Homo sapiens: one gene and its partners. The protein of the gene in region 1 purifies or fractionates together with the protein of each later gene. This does not show direct contact. Each region holds a gene or a part of one and is shown in the gene's direction. Other genes may lie near its edges. The genes, in order: PAN2, PPP1R12B, MYL12B, POM121C, MARF1, ARCN1 and KIF11.

What was found.
Region 2: the proteins of PAN2 (region 1) and PPP1R12B purify together in Homo sapiens (affinity purification with mass spectrometry, with the first as the bait; one large-scale study listed by BioGRID). This does not show direct contact.
Region 3: the proteins of PAN2 (region 1) and MYL12B purify together in Homo sapiens (affinity purification with mass spectrometry, with the first as the bait; one large-scale study listed by BioGRID). This does not show direct contact.
Region 4: the proteins of PAN2 (region 1) and POM121C purify together in Homo sapiens (affinity purification with mass spectrometry, with the first as the bait; one large-scale study listed by BioGRID). This does not show direct contact.
Region 5: the proteins of PAN2 (region 1) and MARF1 purify together in Homo sapiens (affinity purification with mass spectrometry, with the first as the bait; one large-scale study listed by BioGRID). This does not show direct contact.
Region 6: the proteins of PAN2 (region 1) and ARCN1 purify together in Homo sapiens (affinity purification with mass spectrometry; one large-scale study listed by BioGRID and IntAct). This does not show direct contact.
Region 7: the proteins of PAN2 (region 1) and KIF11 purify together in Homo sapiens (affinity purification with mass spectrometry, with the first as the bait; one large-scale study listed by BioGRID). This does not show direct contact.

Annotation. Positions count from the first base shown.
Region 1 is NC_000012.12:56,327,501-56,331,000, reverse strand, and holds part of PAN2 (PAN2-PAN3 deadenylation complex catalytic subunit PAN2), read left to right. Parts: intron 1-2,359; coding exon 2,360-2,529; intron 2,530-2,642; coding exon 2,643-2,763; intron 2,764-2,928; coding exon 2,929-3,006; intron 3,007-3,369; coding exon 3,370-3,500. UniProt on the Homo sapiens protein: Catalytic subunit of the poly(A)-nuclease (PAN) deadenylation complex, one of two cytoplasmic mRNA deadenylases involved in general and miRNA-mediated mRNA turnover.
Region 2 is NC_000001.11:202,355,199-202,358,698, forward strand, and holds part of PPP1R12B (protein phosphatase 1 regulatory subunit 12B), read left to right. Parts: intron 1-3,500. UniProt on the Homo sapiens protein: Regulates myosin phosphatase activity. Augments Ca(2+) sensitivity of the contractile apparatus.
Region 3 is NC_000018.10:3,272,133-3,275,546, forward strand, and holds part of MYL12B (myosin regulatory light chain 12B), read left to right. Parts: intron 1-751; 5' UTR 752-766; coding exon 767-950; intron 951-3,414. UniProt on the Homo sapiens protein: Myosin regulatory subunit that plays an important role in regulation of both smooth muscle and nonmuscle cell contractile activity via its phosphorylation. Phosphorylation triggers actin polymerization in vascular smooth muscle.
Region 4 is NC_000007.14:75,437,800-75,441,299, reverse strand, and holds part of POM121C (nuclear envelope pore membrane protein POM 121C), read left to right. Parts: intron 1-184; coding exon 185-346; intron 347-2,075; coding exon 2,076-2,156; intron 2,157-3,500. UniProt on the Homo sapiens protein: Essential component of the nuclear pore complex (NPC). The repeat-containing domain may be involved in anchoring components of the pore complex to the pore membrane. When overexpressed in cells induces the formation of cytoplasmic annulate lamellae (AL).
Region 5 is NC_000016.10:15,633,155-15,636,654, reverse strand, and holds part of MARF1 (meiosis regulator and mRNA stability factor 1), read left to right. Parts: intron 1-312; coding exon 313-999; exon of another isoform or gene 1,000-1,149; intron 1,150-1,723; coding exon 1,724-1,898; intron 1,899-2,395; exon of another isoform or gene 2,396-2,645; intron 2,646-2,811; coding exon 2,812-3,038; intron 3,039-3,500.
Region 6 is NC_000011.10:118,575,409-118,578,908, forward strand, and holds part of ARCN1 (coatomer subunit delta), read left to right. Parts: exon of another isoform or gene 1-1,490; intron 1,491-3,500. UniProt on the Homo sapiens protein: Component of the coatomer, a cytosolic protein complex that binds to dilysine motifs and reversibly associates with Golgi non-clathrin-coated vesicles, which further mediate biosynthetic protein transport from the ER, via the Golgi up to the trans Golgi network.
Region 7 is NC_000010.11:92,596,130-92,599,629, forward strand, and holds part of KIF11 (kinesin-like protein KIF11), read left to right. Parts: intron 1-729; exon of another isoform or gene 730-1,160; intron 1,161-3,500. UniProt on the Homo sapiens protein: Motor protein required for establishing a bipolar spindle and thus contributing to chromosome congression during mitosis. Required in non-mitotic cells for transport of secretory proteins from the Golgi complex to the cell surface.

The DNA of each region.
Region 1 (3,500 bases):
TGGTGAAACCCCCGTCTCTACTGAAAATATAAAAATTAGCTGGGTGTGGTGGCAGGTTCCTATAATCCCAGCTACTTGGGAGGCTGAAGCAGGAGAATTGCTTGAACCTGGGAGGCAGAGGTTGCAGTGAGCTGAGATCACACCACTGCACTCCTGCCTGGGTGACAGGGCAAGACTCCGTCTCAAAAAAAAGAAAAAGAAAAATACAATGAGGCCAGGCACAGTGGCACCTGTAATCCCGGCACTTTGATAAGCCAAGGTGGGAGGGTTGCTTGAGCCTAAGAGTTCAATACCAGTCTGGGCAACATAGCAAGACCCCATCTCTATTAAAAGAAAAATACAGGCCGGGCGCGGTGGCTCACGCCTGTAATCCCAGCACTTTGGGAGGCCGAGGCGGGCGGATCACGAGGTCAGGAGATCGAGACCATCCCGGCTAAAACGGTGAAACCCCGTCTCTACTAAAAATACAAAAAATTAGCCGGGCGTAGTGGCGGGCGCCTGTAGTCCCAGCTACTTGGGAGGCTGAGGCAGGAGAATGGCGTGAACCCGGGAGGCGGAGCTTGCAGTGAGCCGAGATCCCGCCACTGCACTCCAGCCTGGGCGACAGAGCGAGACTCCGTCTCAAAAAAAAAAAAAAAAAAAAAAAAGAAAAATACAGTTGAGTAAGGGGGTTGAGGTAATGAAGGGTGGGAAATGTTGCTATTTTGTTTGGTTTTGTAGTGTTTTGTTTTAATTTTAATCTTTTTTCCTAATGGCTCTTTTAGAAACAATGTTGCTACTTTAAATAGTTGGTCAGGAGTTCTCTCTGATAAAGTAACATTTGAATAGAGACTTGGATGCAGCACCAAAAAGGGGAACAAAGAGGCAGAGCTCCATGCCTCTAACTTATCCTTGTGCCTCTCCTTTACTATTCTAGGCCCTCTAGAAGGGAGGGAAGGAGCCATGTAGATATCTGGGGAAGGAACATTCTAGAGAACTTCATATGCTGTGTTAAAAGAGCTTGGACCTTGGACTTGAACCTTCAGGCCACTGAAGGGCTTTTTTTTTTTTTTTTTTTTAGGTGGAATCTCACTCTGTTGCCCAGGTTGGAGTGAAGTGGTGCCATCTCAGCTCACTGCAACCTCTGCCTCCCAGGTTAAAGTAATCCTCCTGCCTCAGCCTCCTGAGTAGCTGGGACTACAGGTGTGTGCCACCATGCTCAGCTAATTTTTGTATTTTTAGTAGAGATGACGTTTCACCATGTTGGCCAGGCTGGTGTCAAACTCCTGGCCTCAAGTGATCCACCTGCCTTGGCCTCCCAAAGTGCTGGGATTACAGTGTGAGCCACAGCACCCAGCCTCAGATTTGGGAAATATTTAGGAAGCAAAATAGGCCAGGTGCGGTGACTGATGCCTGTAATCCTAGAATTTTGGGAGGCCGAGGCAGGTGGATCACCTGAGGTCAGGAGTTCGAAACCAGCCTGGCCAACATGGTGAAACCCCCTTTCTACTAAAAATACAAAAAATTAGCTAGGTGTGGTGGTGCATGCCTGTAATCCTGGCTACTTGGGAGGCAGGAGAATTGCTTGAACCTGGGAGGCAGAGGTTGCAGTGAGCTGAGATCGTGCCATTGCACTCCAGCCTGGGCAACAAGAGTGAAACTCCATCTCAAAAAATAAATACATAAATAAAAATTTTAAAAAATCCTTGGTTATCTAGTGGTTAGGAAAAAAATACATAGGACTTGACTGTCAGATATATGGCTTGGTCAACTAGGTAGATCTTGGTACCATAGAGAATACAGTAAGAAAAATAGAAATAAAAATGGTGAATTTAATTTAGGATGTCATGAGTTTGAGGTTATGATGGGATGTTTAAGGAGGTTTAGTAGTTACCATCATCTTCTTGGTATCCATGTGGGATTGGTTCCAAGATCTAAAGATACCAGATACCAAAATTCAAGGATGCCTAAATCCGTTATAGAAAATGATATAGTATTTGCATATAACCTTATGCACATCCTCCCAGATGTGAAACATAAGAAAGCCAGCTGGCCAGTAGAGAATTGGACCATGTCCCTGACCTTCTATATACTGTTCTAACCAAGTGAGCCATTACCTATTCAGCAGGGTCATTGTGAGGACAAAATGAGGTAGAGTTTACCAAAATGCTGTGTAACACATTAAACAAACATAAGACAGTATTATCAGTGTCTTTATCACTAAGATTGACTGGTTCCTAGCCTTTTGCCCCAGTTGCTCCTAGTCACAAAGGCCAAGCAAGAAAGGATCCAAGCTGAGCCATGTTCAGTCCCTGACCTGGCCGTAGGGTGGCCCTTGCCCCTCCACTCTAAGTGTCTCTGTTGTCTTTGTCCTCTATAGGGCCATGCCACTTCATTTTTTGGCCCAGCCTTGGAGCGCTACTCATCCTTTCAAGTCAATGGCAGTGATGATATTCGGCAGATCCAGAGCCTGGAGAATGGTATCCTTTTTCTCACCAAGAACAACCTCAAGTATATGGCCCGTGGGGGCCTCATTATATTTGATTACCTGTAAGTGGCTTCTCAGCTCTGGACTAGGAACGAGGATGCCTCATAGGGTGGGAAGGCTAAGGGATTGGCAGCTTGTAAGGCCTGGGCCCCTTAGCCTTTCCTCTCCCCACCAGGCTGGATGAGAATGAGGATATGCACAGTCTCCTACTGACTGACAGCAGCACTCTACTCGTTGGTGGGCTGCAGAATCACATAATAGAGATTGATCTTAACACTGTCCAGGAGACTCAGAAGGTACAAGCTTGGGGCAAGAAAGACCTATGTGGGGTCTGAGGTTGTTGCGGGGGCAGGGTATGCTTGGGCTGGTAATGTGCCTGAGATGTGGGTGTGACCTTTCTGTTCCCTTGGTCTGTGGGAAAAATCATTCTTCTCACTGGTTTTTCCTGCTTCCCTCTCCAGTATGCAGTAGAGACGCCTGGAGTCACCATCATGAGACAGACAAATCGCTTCTTCTTCTGCGGCCACACGTCTGGCAAGGTGGCCAAGTTCCATTTCTCCTCCCACTGCAGGGCCCTGTTTCACTAGATACCTGATTGCGATCTGCTTTCCCTTAACTCTGGGGTGTAGTTGGATTGGAGGTGAGGGATGAGTGGAGTGAATTCACTTCCTACTCAGTGATGTTCTACTATGAGATTATTTTGCAGCTTGATGTTTTCTATGATAATGAAGTCTCCCTGAAGCCCCTTCTGGCTCTGGGCTTCTCTGTTTGCCTTTTCTGTGCTTTAACTTTCCCTGTCCTAAAGCCCTAGTTCCTTTGGTAGGGACCCCACTGGGTTAGGTAGGTGGCAGGTATTTTTCCTGATAACAGAATTTGCAGATAACTGAATTTTTTTTTTCTAGGTTTCCCTGAGAGACCTCCGTACTTTTAAGGTGGAACATGAGTTTGATGCCTTCTCAGGAAGTCTGTCAGACTTTGATGTGCATGGCAACCTGCTAGCTGCCTGTGGCTTCTCCAGCCGCCTCACTGGCCT
Region 2 (3,500 bases), on another chromosome or scaffold:
CTGGCCGTGTTCCACTATATTTTTCTCTTTAGAGGTTTTCTTAGATTCTTAATTAACAACTAATATTGAATGTCTAAATGGTAGATTGTAAGTCTGTACTAGAGTATATATGTGGTATAATTTCTGCCCTCAAGGAACTAACAGTCAGGTTTGGAAACAGATAAATAAAAAAAAGATTCCTTTTAGAGTTCCAAATTCTATGATACCCTGGAAAGGATGTATTCCTAAGTGGAAGGACAAACGAAGGCAGTCCAGGATGGTAGAGCAGCATGGGCGAATAAATAGGAATGGGTGTGGTGTGTAGGCAGAGGATGCTAGGAAATCCTAATGGATGTGTTTGAAGGGTTAGAGATGAGAGAGAGTCAGGGTGACATCCTAGAGGGCTTTGAACATCAAACATCAGGCCAAGGTGGCTTGATGGACTCCTTAGTAGAGAATTTTTGTGGGTTTGAGCAGGGTCGTTACCCAACCAAAGCAGTATTTTAGGATTCTGAAGCAGCACTTGGATTTCTGAATGAATGGAGAGACAGAGTTGAGAGAACCAGCTGAGTGAATGGAGATGAGAAAAAAGTGTAGTACAATTCTAGCTTGTGAGTCTGAAAGAATTGTGTTATTCAGGTAGAAATAGTATTCAGTCAACGATTAGACTGAGGTACTCTGAAGACGTACAAATAGAAATCTCCTATAGGTGTTTAGCATGGTGGCCCATATCTGTAATCCCAGCACTTTGGGAGGCCAAGGCGGGAGGATTGCTGGAGACCAGGAGTTTGAGACCAGCCTGAGCAATGTGGTGAGACCCTATCTCTCCAACCCCCTCCCCACCCAAAAAAAAATTAGCCAGGTATGGTGGTGCAAACATGTGGTCCCAGTTACATAGGAGGCTGAGGTGGAAGGATCACTTGAGCCCAGGAGGTTGAAGCTGCAGTGAGCTGTGTTCACACCACTGCACTCCAGCCTGGGTGACAGAGCAGAGCAAGACTGTGTCTCAAATAAATAAGTAAGTAAGTAAGTAAATATCCTGTAGGTATCTATGTGACTCAAGGCTAGTCACTTTCCTATCTATGCTCCAGTTTTCTCATATTTGAGACAAGAGACTTGATTTTAGCATAAAGGTGAGAGTTGAAGTAATGAGTGTGAAAGAGGAAAGGGAGAAAACATACAGAGAAGAGCAGAAAACACAAGCAGCTGGTAGGCAGAGAATGCAGAAATTCAAGTTAGAGCTGTTGGAAGATGTGGTAGGCTGACTAATGGTGCCCCAAAAATGTCTAAGTCCTAATCCCCAGAACATGTAAATATGTTACCTTACAGGGTAAAAGAGACTTTGGGGATATGATTAATTTAAGGATCTTGAGATAAGGAGATTAGCCTGGATTATCCAGGTGAGCCCAATATAATCACAAGCATCCATATAAGACAGGCAAGAGAGCAGAATCAGAATAGGAGATGTGATGAAGGAAGCAAGAGATTGCAGGGATTCCAGGAAGGTTCTGTGAGCCAAGGAATGCAGGTGGACCCTAGAAGCTGAAAAAGGCAAGGAAGTGGATTCTTCTCTCAGAGCCTCCACATAAGGAACCAGCCCTGCCAGCAATTTGACAACTCAGCCCAATGAGACTGATTTCAGACTTTTTTTTTTTTTTTTTGAGACTGAATTTTGCTCTTGACCCCTAGGCTGGAGTGCAGTGGCACAATCTTGGCTCACTACAACCTCCGCTGCCCGGGATCAAGCGATTCTCCTGCCTCAGCCTCCTTATTAGCTGGGATTACAGGCGCCCACCACCACAACCAGCTAATTTTTGTATTTTTAGTAGAGACGTGGTTTTGCCTTGTTGGCCAGGCTGGTCTCAAACTCCTGACTTCAGGTGATCCACCCGCCTTGGCCTCCCAAGGATTACAGGTGTGAGCCACTGGGGATTACAGTTGTGAGCCACTGCATCTGGCCATGATTCAGACTTCTGACCTCCAGAATGCTATGATAATAAATTTGTGTTGTTTTAAGCAACTAAGTTTATGGTAATTTGTTATAGCAGCAATAGGAAACTAATACAGAGAAGAACCGACAAACAGTGATATTGAGGTATTTCAAGGAATGGATGGTAAATAATGTAAAAGGAAATTGAGGAGAAGGCCTGTAAAAAGACTGTTGGATTTGGTCATTTAAACTTTGAAAGAGCACTTTCAGTAGAGATATTTTTGAAGACTTTTGTGGAGGTTATATGAAGTTTTTTTTTGCATTAAGGATAACTTGTCTTTCTGTTGACTTTTGGGAGAAAAAATATAGATTTTCCATCAATATAATTGTAATTTAAATGAGGGCCCAAAATATGTGGCAAGACACTTTAAAAGCTGAATTCTGGCTAGTTCAGGTGGTTTCATTATTCATCAGTTAAGAATATTTTAGGATATTAAACCTGATAATAGGGGCAAGAAAGTTATGTCCCTATTACTGATGGCTGCTTATCTAGTTTATTTTACTTCTCAGTCTAGTTTGGCCCATTTCCCACTCATTAGCACTTCCACTGGAAGGCAGCCTTGGGGGAACAGTGATAGGGAGGTTAGTACCAATAAACAGTTTTTTCTGCCATTCTCTTACATTTATTTCTTGAGTGTCTACTGTGTATCTGATTCTGTGCTGCTTGTTACTTTTACTTAGCAGTAGATACAATTTAGAAACTAACTTGAATTTTGGGATTGGTCTCCAGAATAGTTGGTTACTATTATAACTTATAATAGGAAATTGGCTACATAACCGATTTCTGTTCTAGCATTCTGGCTCTTGAGGAGTGTCAGGGGAGTACTATATTTATCAGTATTTGAGACTATTTTATGCTTATGGAGGAGAATTACATATATATCTTCTCTAAGATGGTGAAATATGGAGGTTTGGGATGTCTAATAAATCTTTAATGGTTCAACATAGTAATAATAAATCCAGATTAAGACCTTGGCCCAGAATGTCATATAGGACAAGGAATTGAAGCCTCATTTGGATTGCTAATTGAGTGCTTGCCCAATTTGTTGATGTTGTTTTTGTCTGTGAATATGTTGGGGTTTTTCCTGCTTTTGAAGTGTCATTTAAAAAAATTGTTTCTTCTGATCTTAGATTGTAACCAGTTTGAGTAAAATTTGGGGGCTTAAAGTTTTATCAGGCATGCAGAGTTTATGTTTGTTTCATGAGGCAATTCAATTGAAAAACTGAAGCTTTGCCCAGGCGCGGTGGCTCACGCCTGTAATCCCAGCACTTTGGGAGGCCAAGGCAGGCAGATCACGAGGTCAGGAGATTGAGACCATCCTGGCTAACACGGTGAAACCCTGTCTCTACTAAATATACAAAAAATTAGCCGGGCGTGGTCGCACGCGCCTGTTGTCCCAGCTACTCGGGAGACTGAGGCAGGAGAATCACTTGAACCCGGGAGGTGGAGGTTGCAGTGAGCCAAGGTGGCACCACTGCACTCCAGCCTGGGTGACAGAGCGAGACTCCGTCTCAAAAAAAAAAAAAAAAA
Region 3 (3,414 bases), on another chromosome or scaffold:
AAGGGTGGGTTTGATATTTATAAAGATGAGACCTTTTTTGAACATGACTAGTCTTTTTACATATGTTATCTCAATTAGTTCTTTGCATTGAAGTAGATATCATGTTTTACTGATGAAAAATTGAGGCTCAGAGAGGTTATGTTATACTGGTAGTAAAATGGGAATAAGAGTACCTACCATAGGCAACTGTTGTGAGGATTAAATGGGGACAGTCTTTGTCAGAGTAAGAAATCAACTTTGGAGACTTTCTCTTTGAGGAAGCCCTATGCCTTCATAACAGTGCTTGGCCAGAGTAAGTACTCCATAGATGCTAGCTATTGTTAGATATTTTAAATTCTCACTTCATAAAAATTGATCCCCTGAAGTTTAGGACAAGGTACATCAATAATTTCTATTGTGTTTCTTTCTTTTTTAGAGATGGGAGTCTCACTATGTTGCCCAGGCAAGTCTCGAACTCCTAGTCTCAAGTGAGCCTCCCACCTTGGCCTCCCAAAGTGTTGGGATTATAGGCATGAGCCACTGGTGTCTGGCAAATTCTGTTCCTTAATGTTTCAAAACTGCTTTTTTTCCACTCAGTCATTTAATTGTCACATTGAAAATAAAGTTTAGGTGCATACTTATTCCTACCCAATTGAAGTAATAATTCCTTATTGATATTTTTACCTACAGACTTTAGGTATTATGTATTCTGTTTTTGCTTTGTTTTATACATTGTTTTGTTTTACGTTTTTGTGTTTTTTTTTTAATCCAGAATTAAACAACCACCATGTCGAGCAAAAAGGCAAAGACCAAGACCACCAAGAAGCGCCCTCAGCGTGCAACATCCAATGTGTTTGCCATGTTTGACCAGTCACAGATTCAGGAGTTCAAAGAGGCCTTCAACATGATTGATCAGAACAGAGATGGCTTCATCGACAAGGAAGATTTGCATGATATGCTTGCTTCTCTAGGTAGACTTTATATTCTTTATTTGTATTTTCCCTAAAATAATAATTTGTCTCTTTATGAATCTTTTTTTTGTGCGATGTACAAATATTTCTCTCCTTGTCTCAAAAGGCCTCTGGAGAGATTTCTGGGTGTGGGAGGTGCTATTTTGGGGCTTGGCCAGTCATATGGAGATAAGCCTACAAGGTTGGGGACCTGGCAGATGCTGTGCCCGGGTAGGCTAATGTTCCTGTTAGCTAAATTTTTTAGGTCTCTAGATGGAAAGCCAGGGCATGGCTAGGCAGCAAAATACCAGAGTTTCAAACAAGTGTAGCTAAATAATATACTTAATAAAGGTTGAGTACAGGTTATAAACAAGGAGTGACAGTAAGTGATGATGGTTATCTCTGGGAAGGAGGGGCAGTGCGACTGGAAAAGGGAACACAGTGAAGAAGACTTTCACAATATTTTGTATGATTTTTTTAATAACTAAAATGTAAAGATACAGGATTTAAAGCACACATAAACAGCCATTTGTATGTTGGTATATGGGTGTTAATATTCCTTGTATGATTTTGTTATTGTTTCTTAACATGCATCCTACATGTTCTGGCCAGAGTCAGCAGTTAATTTACAGTTGGGAGTCAAGGAACTGCAGGCAAAGGAGACCTTGATAGGCCAAAGCGGAGGGGGTGAGGCAGGCTGGGAGTGGGTCAGGGATGGCCTACAGTGAGACTTTGCGCTCTGTCCTCCTGCTTGGCTGACTGGCCAAAAAGGCAAAGAAAGAGGTGGGGGTTTTTTTTTTCTCTCTTTTAATGCCTACAAAATGATCAGCTAGCTTTTATTCTTCTAACTTTTGATTTTGATTATTTCTCCTAACACATTGAAAGTAAAGTTTAGGTGTGTACTTATTCCTATCCAACATATGATTTTGAAAACTTTTAAGCCTACAAAAAGTGGAAAGAACATTATAGTGAACACCTATACATCTTTAGCTATATTCACTGATTGTTAACATTTTGTAACTTTTCTTTATCTAGGGTGAGAGTAGAATCAAAGATTTTTATCTGATTTGTTGACTTGTAGTTAGATTATAACCTAGTGTTTCTCACATTCAGAATGTCTGAGTATGTTCTTGGGCAAGTCAGTACTGAAGAAGGCCTCTGAGGAAAATTGAGGAATGTAGCCATCTTCCAAAGATTGAACTCTCAAGTCTATACTCTGCTTATAATAGATGCTCAATAGATATTTGTTGAACGAACAAGTCATGGTAGAGTCAGAGGTTGTCTTTGAGACCTTCTGTTTTGCAGAAACCCATCCTTTTAAAGATACGTGTTAAAAGAACAATTTCAGCCTAATTAAATTTAATGGAGTTTAATTGAGCAATGAACAATTTGCGAATCAGGTAACCCCAGAATCACAGCAGATTCACAGAGACTCCAGTGCAGCCACGTGGTAGAAGAAGATTTATAGACAAAAAAAGGGAAATGACGTACAGGAATTGGAAGTGAGGTATGGAATGGCTTGATTGATTACAGCTCGGCATATGCCTTATTTGAACATGGTTTGAACACTCAGCAGTGTATGAATGGTTGAAGTATGGCTGCTGAGATTGGCCAAGGCTTAGCAGTTGTTACAGGCTCATACTCCTAAGTTAGGTTTTCAGTCTTGTCTGACTATTAAGCTAGGTTATAATTCATTCACAAGGACTCAACTGTAGAAGTACGGAGTCTTTCTCAGGCCATATTTAGTTTGCTTTAACATATGTATTTACCTTTTAGGGGAACCTTCATACATTATTGGTAGGAATGTAAATAAGTACAGCCACTGTGAAGGACATTATGGAGGTTCCTCAGAGAACTAAAAATAGGAGCTCTCCCATATGATCCAGCAATCCCACTGCTAGGTATATACCCCCAAAAAAGGAAATCAGTAGTATCATTGAAGAGGTATCTGCACTCCCATGTTTATTCCAGCACTATTCACAGCAGCCATGATTTGAAAACACCGTAAGTGTCCGTCACCAGATGAACGGATTTTAAAAATGTGGTACTTATGTACAATGGAATACTGTTCGACCATAAAAAATGAGATCCTGTCATTGCAGCAACATGGATGGAATGGAAGACATTATGTTAAGTGAAATAAGCCAGGCACAGAAAGACAAACTTCACATGTTCTCACACACTTGTGGGAGCTAAAAGTTAAAATAATTGAACTCATGGAGATGGAAAGTAGAAGGATGGTTATCAGAGACTGGGAAGGGCAGGGAGAAGAGTGGGAACTGTTAATAGATACAAAAGTATAGATAGAATGAATAAGATCTAGTATTGGATAGAATAACAAGGTGACTGCAGTCAGCAGTAATTTGTTGTACATTTTAAAATAACTCAGTATAGTTGGAATGTTGGTAACACAAAGAAATGATAAATGCTTGAAGGGATGGCTATGCCATTTACCTTGATGTGATTATTTTGCATTATATGCCTG
Region 4 (3,500 bases), on another chromosome or scaffold:
ATTCTAGTAAAACCGTTTGTTTTTCACTTTTTGCCGTTAACGAAAAAGTAGCTTTACTTGCTAAGGGGAACTGTTGTGAGTGTATAAATTATACTTTGGCCTGTTGGTTAGCTTCTGATTTCCGTTTCTGATGTGGCATGGGAATTAAAATATCTTACGGCTAGAATCTTGTCTTTCATTATAGACCAGAGCAGATAATCAGCTCAACACTGTCGTCACCATCAAGTAATGCCCCAGACCCATGTGCAAAGGAGACTGTACTGAGTGCCCTCAAAGAGAAGAAGAAGAAAAGGACAGTGGAGGAAGAAGACCAAATATTCCTTGATGGCCAGGAAAATAAAAGAAGGTAACAGGCTCAGGAGAGTACTAAGCCAGTTTCCCGCTTGGACCCCTATGGGATGAGATGTAGACATTCCCGTAAAGATACAGAGGCCACGTCCAGTTTGTGAGCCTTCATAGGCCTCCTTCTTTGGCTTTCATGAGAGAACCTAATAACAAGGGTTTTAATGCTGTTCATTTCAAGGCACAGGTTAGATCGATGTCATAATTTACCTTTTCTGTGAGTAGCAGAGATAAGCTGACAGCTATTAGCCATGTTAGCCTCATGCTTCTGTAGAAACGTGTTAAAAGTTTATTTTCAAGAAAGAAGGCTCTAAGTCTTCCGGTCGGAATTTTGTGGTGTTCAGTTATTTGGGTAACCACCAGTTCTAGTGTCTTTTTTTTTTTTTTTTTGAGTTGGAGTCTGTCTCTGTCCCCCAGGCTGGAGTGCAGTGGCCCGATCTCAGCTCACTGCAAGCTCAGCCTCCCAGGTTCATGCCATTCTCCTGCCTCAGCCCCCCGAGTAGCTGGGACTACAGGCGCCCGCCACCATGCCCAGCTAATTTTTTTGTATTTTTAGTAGAGACAGGGTCTCACCATATTGGCCAGGATGGTCTCAAACTCCTGACCTCGTGATCCGCCCACCTTGGCCTCCCAAAGTGCTGGGATTACAGGCTTGAGCCATGGCGCCCGGCCCACCAGTTCTAGTGTCTTAATTGTGCTGAAGGAAATGCTTGGGAAAGAAAAATGAAAACTAGAGTTTGGTAGTTTTATCAATAATGAGATTAAAACCAATTTCCTGGCAGGGCAAGGTGGCTCACGCCTATAATCCCAGCACCTTGAGAGGCCGAGGCGGGTGGATCACCTGAGGTCAGGAGTTCGAGACCAGCCTGGCCAACATGGTGAAACCCCGTCTCTACTAAAAATACAAAAATTAGCTGGATGTGGTGGTGGGTGCCTGTAGTCCCAGCTACTCCAGAGGCTGAGACAGGAGAACTGCTTGAACCCAGGAGGCGGAGGTTGCAGCGAGCCGAGACCATGCCAGTGCACTCTAGCCTGGGTGACAGAGCGAGACTGTCTCAAAAAAAAAAAAAAAAATTCCTTATGTGGTTTGTAAAATAACCTAATGAAAATGGAATAGTTTTCTAATTACAGAAAGAAAAGAAGTTGAAGTGGGTGAGCATTTACTGAGCACCCACTGTGTATGAGACCCTACTGCAAGTACTGTGGATAGAGCAGTGGACAAGACAAAATCTCTGCTCTCATGGGACTCTTGAGGGAAACACCATTTTATAAGGCTGGGTATGGTGGTGCATGCCTGTACTCCTAACACTTTGACAGGCCAAGGTGGGAGGATCGCTGGAACCCAGGAGCTCAAGACCAGCCTGGGCAACATAGGGAGCCCTCGCCTGTACAAAAAATTAAGAAATTAGCCAGGTGTGGTGGTGCATACTTGTAGTCCCAGCTGCGCTGGAGGCTGAGGCAGGAGAATTGGTTGAACCCGGGAGGCAGAGGTTTGTTGCAGTGAGCCAAGATTGTGCTATTGCACTCCAGCCTGGGCAACAAGAGTGAAACTCTGTCTGAAAAAAAAAAATTTACCTTTCAGAAACTTAGGGATTTTAAACAACCATTTTCTGGTCTAGCATGGAATCTGTGCTCCATAGAGATAGTATAAGGTCCCAGAAATGTGAGAATACACTTTAAAGGGACAAACAAAGTCATGTCATTTCATTTGAGACTTTTTTGATTTGTCGCAGGCGCCATGATAGCAGTGGCAGTGGACATTCAGCATTTGAGCCCCTGGTGGCCAGTGGAGTCCCCGCTTCTTTTGTGCCTAAGTAAGTGCGAGTCCATCCAGATGAAATACCAACTGTTTGGAAAAAGGCCTGATCAGAGCTGTTGCCCTATAGATTTTCCTCTTTGTTTTTTGCATTGCTTAATTAGTTCAGGTTCATGTCTTTGAAATTAGGAATATTCTGAGTAACTTGTCACAATTAACTGCCTTCTGTCTAATTCCTTTTAATGTTCTTGCATTAATATGGATGAAATATGCTGAGACTAGAGGTTTTATAAATATATTTAATAACCAAGCACATACACAGAAGGATTGCAAAGTTTGTGCAGCGGATAAGACAGTATGAAACTTAAATGTTTAATTTCTACATGTCAGTTTAAAAACAAATTGGAGGAAGAATTGGGTGGAAAGGAAAGTGGCTCAAAAGTCTGTGTGGAAAGACTTAGGATAACTTAGATACCTCATCTGAGTCAGCAGTGTGATGTGGCCACCAGGAAAGCTAAAGTGCTCCTGGTCTGTGCTGTTAGAAGAAAGACTAGAATGAGGCAGGTATTCCTGCCTTCCGTAGTTCTGCTCACTGTCCGTGGAGCACTGTGGTCAGATCAGCGTACTGCACTGCGAGGGAGGATGTACACAAACGGAAATTCATTCCCAGTGAAGCAACGAAGATGTTAAGGAGATTTGCAACAGCCCAGAGGGGTGGTGGTGGATGATGGGGTTTTGGAGGTATGGAAGTATTAACCCAGAGGAGAAAAATCTCAGGAGGAATAAAGAAATAAGTGAGGGAAGGACAATGGTCTCCAAAAAACCAAAGGACTGTCCCTTGAAAGAAGCGAAATAACTTGCTCTGTTTGACTTCAAATAGGATCCGTGGGTGAAAGTTAGAGGAAATACATTGTAATCCACTGTGAGAATAAACTGGTTCATGGTTGACGTGGGTCACTCTAGGAGAGCGTTGTCTATATTGTAACAGGTTGGATGACTGTCCTACAGGAAAGATGCATAGGAGATTTCTGTTTCCATTGGAGGTTTAGAAAAATGATGGGTTCCTCTTAACTCTGATTTTTTTTTAACAGCTTTGTTGAGGTATAATTGACATAACTGTACTTGTTTAAAGCATGTGACATTTTGACACGCATACACCTGTGGAACCATCCCACCACTAAGATAATGAACATCCATGACCTCCAAAAGTTCCCACATGCCTGTAATCCCTCTCTTTAGTTCCACCCGTGTCCCCAGGCATCCACTGATCTGTCTTCTGTCACTGTAGATAGGTATGCATTTTCCAGAATATTCTATAAATCATACATTTAAGTTTTAAATATTTGGCTTTTCTTACTGACTTTGTCAGATAGATTTGGCCAGATTGTTAGCAGTAAAAATT
Region 5 (3,500 bases), on another chromosome or scaffold:
GAAATTACCAAAAGGAAGTTACTGAGGCATGGTGGCTGCTAAAGATGTAAACAGGCCCTCCCACCCCAGTCTGTTTCAATTCAGGAAGAATGTAGTCTTAATTTTAGTTGTGTGTTCCAGTGTTCATGTCCTGCAGACCTCTCTGAAGAATGTTCCTGGTTTTAACTAGCTGTGATTCCATTTTGTTCAGTTATGATTTAGTGATGTAACAGAATTGAACACTATTTCTGTTTGTGCATGCAGTAAGATATGAGTAACCAAAAAACCACGGACCTCATAAAATTAATTTATGTTCTGATTTTCTTTTCTCAGAAAGAGTACATGGAGAACAAGAAAGTTGCTGTGGAACTAAAGGATGTACCATCACCCCTTCATGCTGGCTCTAAGCTTTTTCCAGCAGTCCCACTTCCTGATATTCGTTCTCTTCAGCAGCCTAAAATACAGCTTTCTTCTGTCCCCAAAGTAAGCTGCTGTGCTCATTGCCCTAATGAACCCTCCACTTCGCCAATGCGTTTTGGTGGTGGTGGTGGCGGTAGCGGAGGTACCAGTAGCTTGATTCACCCGGGCGCACTGTTAGACTCGCAAAGCACCAGGACAATCACGTGTCAGGTAGGGTCAGGGTTTGCTTTCCAGTCTGCATCTTCACTCCAGAATGCCTCAGCTAGGAACAATTTGGCAGGCATTGCAAGTGACTTTCCCAGCATGTGTCTAGAGAGTAACCTGTCTTCCTGCAAACACCTGCCCTGTTGTGGAAAACTCCACTTCCAGTCATGTCATGGTAATGTGCACAAGCTGCATCAGTTTCCGAGTCTGCAGGGCTGCACCTCCGCTGGCTATTTCCCCTGTTCTGATTTCACAAGCGGGGCTCCAGGGCATTTGGAAGAGCACATTTCACAGTCGGAGCTAACGCCTCACTTGTGCACCAACTCTTTGCACCTTAATGTGGTACCTCCGGTTTGTTTAAAGGGCTCACTTTACTGCGAAGACTGTCTAAACAAGGTTCGTATCTTTTTATTTCTTAAGTTGGGTGCAGCTGAGGATTGAGGAATGACTTTTGAAGTGGATTTATCTTGAAAAGTATTATACATGGGGTTGAAGATTCTCCCATGGTATAGGGGAATCTCCCCATCAGCATAATTTTTGCTGGTTCTGAAAGAAACAAAGGGTAAGATGGGAGATCATTCAAAAAAGTAGAGAGTCATTATTTTTGTAGTTTATACTTTTAGAGCCTCTTGTTGCAAACAAGAGGTTGGCAAAGCCTTCGTGTTCTATGTTTAAAGGCTAAAGCACGATGGATTTTTTATAACTTACATTCAGCTTACACATGGGCCCATTCATGTAAGGTAGATAACTGCATGTTGTCTTTTTGCAATAATGTGGGAAACCTGAAGCTTGGCCTCAGTCACATTGGTGTTCAAGTGAGACTTTGCTACCCTTTATGTAAAATATGTGTGAGGTCTTCGTTGCAGCAGACTCATGCCCCAGAATGTAAAGATCTGACCACGTGAATATCTTTCTTGATCATGTCAAGTCACTTCTGGAAATGAATTTATGAACTGATAGCTAATGGTTCTTGGAAAGATTATTTGAAAGTCCTTTTTATTAGAGGCTAGCAAGTGGAAAGGTAAAACACTTAGAGTGTATTTTCAGTTGTTGTATATAACTCCAGCTTCTGAAATGATGTATCTGACACCTCCTCCTTTTTAAAAAAAATTTAAAACAGCCAGCAAGAAATAGCATAATCGATGCGGCTAAAGTCTGGCCAAATATACCACCTCCAAATACTCAACCTGCACCTCTTGCTGTCCCTCTGTGTAATGGCTGTGGAACCAAAGGAACAGGGAAGGAGACCACGTTGTTATTGGCGACCAGTCTAGGCAAAGCTGCTTCAAAATTTGGTAAATGACAGTATGGCATAAAATGTGCATATTTAAATAGCTTTCAATATCTCATACTAACATTGCATTTAATCACCTTTGAAGGATTCCTTATGGTTCTAAAGCTACTGTGTATGTGAGTCTCCAATTCCATATCTTGGTAGAAATCTTTTTATTATTATGGACCAGGAAGTCATTTGCCCTTTATGTTGGGCCGAGGCTATACACAGAAGCTGTGTATAGAAAAATTGGTAGTATATCAGGAGAAATAAAAGTGCTGGAAAAGACTTGGTGTCACCTTAGGTTGGAAATCACACTTGTTGATGGTATACTCCCTAGAAGTGCTTAGAACAATTTACTAATGGCTGATTAAAAACAGTATTTGAAAACCAAAGAGTTCTCAGTTAAAATAATTTCCCTAAAAAGTAGTTAATGCGACGTTTTGAAAACATTTTTAAAATATTAAATCAGATGTTAATGCAGCGTTAACTCAAAATCAACGACAGTAACAGCTTCACCCTTTGTCAGCTCCTCAGTGTTGGTTACTACCAAGTAGGTAGATAAGTGTGGGCTAAGCTTGAAAGTCGGGTCCTGGAGCTGCAGTATCCGGTCAGTTAGTGTGCTTGTGTTCAGAGAAGCATCACTGCTTAATGTCAGAGTGGCTCATGCTTGGAGGTGGATTTATTGTGGGCTTAAAGTTACTTGACTTTTAGATTTGTCTTCTCCTGAAAAACAGAAATAATCTCTTAGAGTGATACTTTTTGACAGCTTGATTGCTTATTAGGTCAACCAGTGAGGTTGGTAGCCTTAAAACTTGGCATTCATTAATAATTTAGTTTTTCTACCACTGAGAATGATAGGTAGTTTATTATCTTATTGTAACTTGCCATTTATTTTCCACTACAAGTAATTGAAAATGTTAACATTTCTTAAGGGTCACCAGAAGTTGCAGTAGCTGGACAGGTGCTAGAAAACTTACCCCCCATTGGAGTTTTTTGGGATATTGAAAACTGCTCCGTTCCCTCTGGCCGGTCAGCAACTGCTGTTGTGCAAAGAATCCGTGAGAAGTTTTTTAAAGGCCACAGAGAAGCAGAATTCATCTGTGTATGTGACATCAGTAAAGAAAACAAGGAAGTTATTCAAGAGCTGAATAATTGCCAGGTAAAAAAAAAAAATTTAATAATTTTAATCTACAGTAGAGGAATAAGCAGATATTTGTTTGTTTGTTTGTTTTGAGACAGAGTCTAAGTGTCACCCAGGCTGGAGTGCAGTGACGCATTCATGGCTCCCTGCAGCCTCGAACCCTGGGACCCCAGTGATCCTCCCACCTCAGCCTCCCAACTAGCCAGGATCACAGATGCACGCCATCATGCTCGGCTCATTTTTTATTTTTTGTAGAGACGAGGTCTCCCTATGTTCCAACCAGAAACAGAAACTAAGAACCCATGACTGTATTCTGTCCCTTGGACACCCCTGGATGGCTTTCAGGATCCAGGGTTAGGTGGTGGAGGCTTGTCTCAAACTCCTGGGATCAAGCAGTCCTCTTGCCTTGGCCTCTAAAAGTGCTGTACGTGTGTGTGTGTGTGTGTGTGTGTGTGTGTGGTGTTTTTTTTTTTTTTAGAA
Region 6 (3,500 bases), on another chromosome or scaffold:
CGGGTGTGTGTGTGTGTGTGTGTGTGTGTTTTAATTCTCTGCAAGCTTTTGTTTTAGAATAGAAATGTGATGGACTTAAAACCCTCACTGAGTAAATTACTTTTCAAGTTTTAGGTTTCGTATGTGGTCTACATTTTATTGTAATCTTCTCTCTGATTTTATCTATAATAGCTTCATATAAATAGAAAAGACAGAACAGTCCTCCCTGACAATTATAGAAACTAGCCTTAATATGACCATGAATTGTGTGTGCATGTATATGTGTATAAAATATTGCGGTGAATTACAAAGGAGAAGGTGACTATAATTCTGGAAGTAAGGGATCCTGAAGCATTTAGAGATTCAAGAAAGAACTTGACTTTTTTTGAGAGAGAGTTGTGCATATTTATCCTGAATTATTATACCACCTGTTATTCTTGTATCTCTCTTGCACACACAATTTGTTATGGTTAGACAATTTGCCTTCTGGCAGCCTAATGTTACTATAAAATATTGTTCCAAAGTGGTTAGAACTGGAGCAGTGGGTATAAAATGGAAGTATTGTACATTTTCTGTCACTGTAGTTGTTTTTTTTTTTTTCTGTTACTGTAGTTTTCAAATGCTTAGACTTACAGAACTTTAAAGACACAGAGCACTTTGGATTTCATGTAAACTAACCTCCTATGTTAGGGATATTTCAATAATCAATTAAGTGACTTATCCAAGGTCACATAATTAGTGGCAAAGGCAGAACAGAAACCTAATTCTCCAGGTTTTTTTACTTGAGGCACTTAACAATTCATGTAGTTAAGTCTGTGTAGGAGAGAGTTGTTATTTAGTCCAAAGATAGTGTACTCAAACCATGTAAGAATTATTAAAAGTTGTTTGGCAAAGCTCAACTTTATGAGGGAATTTTTTTTTTTTTTAACCGTCCTGGAGAGATCATCTAACTTATGGGCCCTCAGTTTTCACATCTGTAAGACAATCAAGGGCTCTTGCAAGTTCCTTTTAGATCTGGAATGTTTTTTCCAAAAATGTTAAAAAAAAAAAAAAAAAAAAAAACCAAAAACTTTGTAATCATATTTATTAATTCTTCCTCAGAGAAAATCAGATCAAATTTCAATAGGGAAAATTGTTAACTTACCTTTTAGTATATGCTATATTTTAATAATTGTTAAACCAGTAAACATTAATGTAAAGAGGTTTATTATTTCAAGAACTTTAAGAAGACAAATGTTAATTTAGGATAGGATAAATTTATCATGTTTAGAGGTGACCATACCTTCTAGCCATATTAGTAGCTGTAACAGAGAGACCTGTGTCAACTGCCTGGAACCTGTAATTTGTGGTGTCCTGGGTGTTCGGAGATTTATGCTATACTTAGTATGGGGAACTATGGTCCTATTTTGGAAGCCTTGTTTTGCTTGTATCTGGATAATGGAATGACTCAAAGAGAGACATATGATTTTACCCTACTTCTTTCTTCATCTTGACGTACTGAAAGCCTGGAATTCTGGCCAGGTGTGGCGGCTCATGCCTGTAATCCCAGCACTTTGGGAGGCTCAGGCGGGCAGATCACTTGAGGTTGGGAGTTTGAGACCAGCCTGGGCAACATGGCAAAACCCTGTCTCTACAGAAAAATACAAAAAATTAGCCAGGTGTGGTGGCCTGTGCCTGTAGTCCCAGATACTTGGGAGGCTGAGGTGGGAGAATCACCTGAGCCCAGAAGGTTGAGGCTGCACTGAGCCAAGATCACGCCACTGCACTACAGCTTGGGCAATAGAGCAAGACTCTGTTTCAAAACAAACAAATCCTGGAATTCATCAAAGCATGATCTAAATTCTGTTTCTTTCTTTCTTTCTTTCTTTTTTTTTTTTGAGGCAGAGTCTCACTTTGTAGCCCAGGCTGGAGTGAAGTGGTATGATCTTGGCTTACTGCAACTTCCGCCTCCCAGGTTCAAGCAATCCTCCCACCTCACTCTCCCCGTAGCTGGGACTACAGACGTGCACCACCAGACTTGGCTAATTTTTTGTATTTTTTGGTAGAGACAGGGTTTTCCCATGTTGACCAGGCTGGTCTCGAACTCCTGACCTCAGGTGATCTGCCTGCCCTGGCTCCCAAAGTGCTGGATTAAGGCATGAGCCACCGCTCCCGGCCTAAATGCTGTTTCTTCTATCAAGTCATCCCTGACTGTACCAGCTGGAAGTAATCTCTTCCTCTGAATTTCCACGCACTTTATCGGTTACTCTCTCATGTTACTTAACACATTCTGCCTCATATTACAGTTATTTGTGTTTGTGTCTTATCCCTATTAAGCTTCTTGTAGGCAGAATGCTAGCCTGTGTCATCTTAATTCTCAGAAAGCATGTTGTATGTATAGTAGATGTTCGATAAATAATTACTCAGTTAATTCTTATAATATCGCAAAAATGGAGATTACCAGTACCTATAATTAGTTTTTGAACATGCTCATCAGTAAAGTGGATGGGCCAGGTGCAGTGGCTCACTCCTGTAATCCCAACACTTTGGAGGCCAAGGCGCGCAGATGACTTGAGGCCAGGAGTTGGAGACCAGCCTGCCCAACATGGCAAAACCCTGTCTCTATTAAAAATAGAAAAATTAGCCAGGCTTGGTGGTGCTGGCCTGTGCCTGTAGTCCCAGTTACTCAGGAGGCTGAGGCATGAGAATTGCTTGAACTCAGGAGGCAGAGCTTGCAGTGAGCCAAGATGGCACCACTGCACTCCAGCCTGGACTACAGAGTGAGACACTCTCTCAAAAAATAAATAAATAAATAAATAAATAAATAAATAAATAAATAAATAAATAAAGTGGATAGTAACATACACCTTTTTGTTCCTTTTTCCCTCTCAAGTTGCTTTTGATGTTTTTACCTAAATTTTACTTGTATGGTATAGAGGTGTTTTTAACTCCAGTTGGAAACCTAAGAACTACCCTTGAGCCTGTAAACATTGTTTCTAACAGGTTTATTATTAGATATGGGGTTTCTATTAAATGCAGCATGTTTATATAGGTCTGAAGTTTTGGTCTGAGCTGTCCTTTCTTTAGGTGTTCATTTGATTTGTCTTATTTCTTCAAAACCTCATAAAATTCTAACATAGAGGACCATGACTTCCTAGAGCTATGACTCTCAACCTTTTAGGGATAGGAGGCTCTACAGGGATTACATTTACAATATGCTCCCATTTATTAATAATATTTCTCATCGCATGAGGGGATTTTCTATGGGCCATTTGAAATAACTTCTCTAGAGGATCGATGCATTCCCTGAAACTGTATGTAAAATTTTGGGGGGAGAGTCAATATTCATTATTTGAATATCAAAATATTGACAAAGGCAAAAATCCATTGCCTTGGCCGGATGCTGTGGCTCACACTTGTAATCCCAGCACTTTGGGAGGCTGAGGTGTGCGGATCACTTTAGCCCAGGAATTTGTAGCCTGGGCAACATGGCAAAACCCCGTCTCTCTTTTTTTTTTTTTTTTTTTTTTTTTTTTTTTTAA
Region 7 (3,500 bases), on another chromosome or scaffold:
AGGAGCTGGGACTACAGGCGCCTGCCATCTCTCCCGGCTAATTTTTTGTATTTTTAGTAGAGACGGGGTTTCACCATATTAGCCAGGATGGTCTCCATCTCCTGACCTTGTGATCTGCCCGCCTTGGCCTCCCTAAGAGCCGGGATTACAGGCGTGAGCTACGGAGCCCGGCCTTGAGTTACTTCTTACTTTTAGCTATTATGAATAATGTTGCTATGAATATGGGTTTTCAATTCTTTTGGGTATTTACCCAGAATTGTAATTGCTGGATCATATGATAATTCTATTTTAAAGTTTTTGAGGAACCGACAAACTATTTTCCACAGTGGCTGGACCATTTTACATTCCTACCAACAGTGCATAAGGGTTCCAATTTCTCCACATCCTCACCAACGTTTATTTTCTGTTTCTTTTTTTTTTTTCAAGTAGCCATCCATTGGGTGTGAGGTGCTATCTCATTGTAGTTTTGATTTGTATTTCCCTAATGATTAATGATGTTGAGCATCTTTTCATGTGTTTACTGGCCATTTTGTGTATCTTTGGAGAAATGTCTGTTTAAGTCCTTTGCCCATTTTTAAATTGGTTTGCTTTTTTGTTGTTGAGTTTTAGGAATTTTCTATATATTTTGGATATTTTCAGATACATAAACGGCAAAAATTTTTTCCCCATTACTGTGGTTTGCCTTTTTACTCATTGATACCGTGTGGTCTTTTCCTTTCTTTTTCTTTTTGGAACCAGTGCATGGCCTCTTTGTTGATTCTGTGTTTGGCCCCAGTGCAGCCTGTTCTGTGCTATGTGTCTGCAGTGCTGAAACCAGGCCTACCCAGCACCATACAGAAGTCCAGGCTGTAGATACCAATGCATGGGTCACATTTGATACCCAAATCTGTGTGTTCCTGGATCTCCAAACCAAAGTTTCCAGTATCTGAGAAGTTGTTCTTTCTTGATTCACACTCCTGCATCTTTAGACCTTTCTTCAGGGTTTCTTCTGCTTTGGCCCTTTGTGCAGTGGGTGGCAATCTTCACTTCTCCTGATGCCAAAGGATCTGACAATGTATTTGACTTTGGAGAACACAGGGGTCTGGCCTATGAGCTGCTCCAACACCTTGGCTGCTGGGGTCAGTCATCTCCAGTCTCCTCCATACAGATGTTGAGACAGAAAATCGTTCTGTCACCCAGGCTGGAGTGCAGTGGCACAGTCTCGGCTCACTGTAACCTCTGCCTGTCAGGTTCAAGCAATTCTTATGCTTCAGCCTCCCAAGTATCTGGGATTACAGGTGTGCACCACCATGCCTGGCTAATTTTTTGTATTTTTAGTAGAGATGGGGTTTCGCCTTGTTGGCCAGGCTGGTCTTGAACTACTGGCCTCAAGTGATCCACCCATTTTGGCCTCCCAAAGTGCTGGGATTATGAGTGTGAGCCCTCATCTGGCCAGAGTTCTCTTTTTTTTACCTTGATCTTGCACTATGATGGAGAAAAGGAAGATAAAGTCTTTTTTTTTCCCTTGGGTTTGTTTGTTTGTTTGTTTGTTTGTTTTTTGAGACGGAATTTTGCTCTCGTTGCCTAGGCTGGAGTGCATTGGTACGATCTTGGCTTACTGCAACCTCCGCCTCCTGGGTTCAAGCCATTTTCCTGCCTCAGCCTCTAGAGTAGCTGGGATTACAGGCATGCGCCACCACGCCTGGCTAATTTTGTATTTTTAGTAGAGATGGGGTTTCACCATGTTGGTCAGGCTGGTCTTGATCTCCTGATCTCAGGTGATCCGTCCACCCTGGCCTCCCAAAGTACTGGGATTACAGGCGTGAGCCCGTGCCTGGGCTATTTTTTTTTTCTCCCCTTTAAATATAGTATCTTGCTTTATTGCCCAGACTTGTTGTGAACTCCTGGACTCAAATAGTCCTCCTACCTCAGCCTTCCAGGTAGCTGGGATCACAGGGATGCTGTCTTTTGATACACAAACATTTTAAATTTTTATGAAGTCCAGTTTGTCTTTTTGTTTTTGTTCCCTGTATCTTTGGTGTTATATCCAAGAAATCATTGCCAAATCCATTGTTGTGAAGCTTTTGCCTTATGTTTTCTTCTAAGAGTTTTATAGCTTTAGGTCTTACATACATTTTTGATCCATTTTGAGTTAATATTTGTATATTGTGTTAGATAAGGGTCCAACCTCATTCTTTTGCATATGGATATTTAGTTTCCCAGCACCATTTGGTGAAAAGCTTGTCTTTTTCTGATTGAATGGTCTTGGCAACCTTATTAAAAATCATTTGCTCATATGTAAGAGGGCTTATTTCTAAGTGCTGTTATGTTCCATTGGTCTATAAGTCTGTCTTTATGTCAGTACCACATGGTTTTGATTATTGCAGCTTTGTAGTAAGTTTTGAAATCAGGAAGTGTGAGTCCTCCAGCTTTGTTCTTTTTCAAGATTGTTTTGGCTATCTGGACTCCCTTGGGATTCCATATGAATTTGAGGATGAATTTTTCTATTTTTGTAAAACACGTCATTGGGATTTTAATAGGGATTACATTGAATCTATAGATCACTTTGGGTAGTATTGGCATCTTAACAATATTAAGTCTTTCAGTTCATGAACAAGGGATGTGTTTCCATTTATTTATGCCCCTTAATTTCTGCCAGCAGTTTTTTTTTGTTTGTTTTTGTTTTGAGATGGAGTTTCGCTCTTGTTGTCCAGGCTGGAGTGCAGTGGCACAATCTTAGCTCATTGCAACCTCCACCTCCCGAGTTCAAGTGATTCTCCTGCCTCAGCCTCCTGAGTAGCTGGGATTACAGGTATGTGGCACCACGACCAGCTAATTTTTGTATTTTTACTAGAGACAAAGTTTCACCATGTTGGTCAGGCTGGTCACGAACTCTTGACCTCAGGTGATCCACCCACCTTGGCCTCCCAAAGTGCTGGGATTATAGGCGTGAGCCACTGCGCCTGGCCTCAGCAGTGTTTTATAGTTTTCATTTTATAAGTCTTTCACCTCCTTGGTTAAATTAATTACTAATATTTTATTCTTTTTGGTGCTATTTTAAATTGAGTTGTTTTTGTAATTTCCTTTTTAGATTGTTCATTCTTAGTGTATAAAAATGTAACTGGAGGCTGGACGCAGTGGCTCTCACCTGTTATCCCAGCACTTTGGGAGGCAAGGTGGGCCTCCCAACTCCTGATCACGAGATCAGGAGTTCAAGGCCAGCCTGGCCAACATAGTGAAACCCTGTCTCTACTAAAAATACAAAAATTAGCCATGCATCGTGGCGCGTGCCTGTAGTCCCAGCTACTTAGGAGGCTGAGGCAGGAGAATCGCTTGAACCTGGAAGGTGGAGGTTGTGGTGAGCCAAGATCGTGCCACTGTACTCCAGCCTGGGCAACAGAGTGAGACTCTGTCTCAAAAAAAAAAAAAAAGAAAAAAGAAACGTCGCTGGATTTTGCTTGTTGACTTTCTATCCAGCTACTTTGCTGAATTCACTTATTAGTTCTAACAGTTTTTTTTTG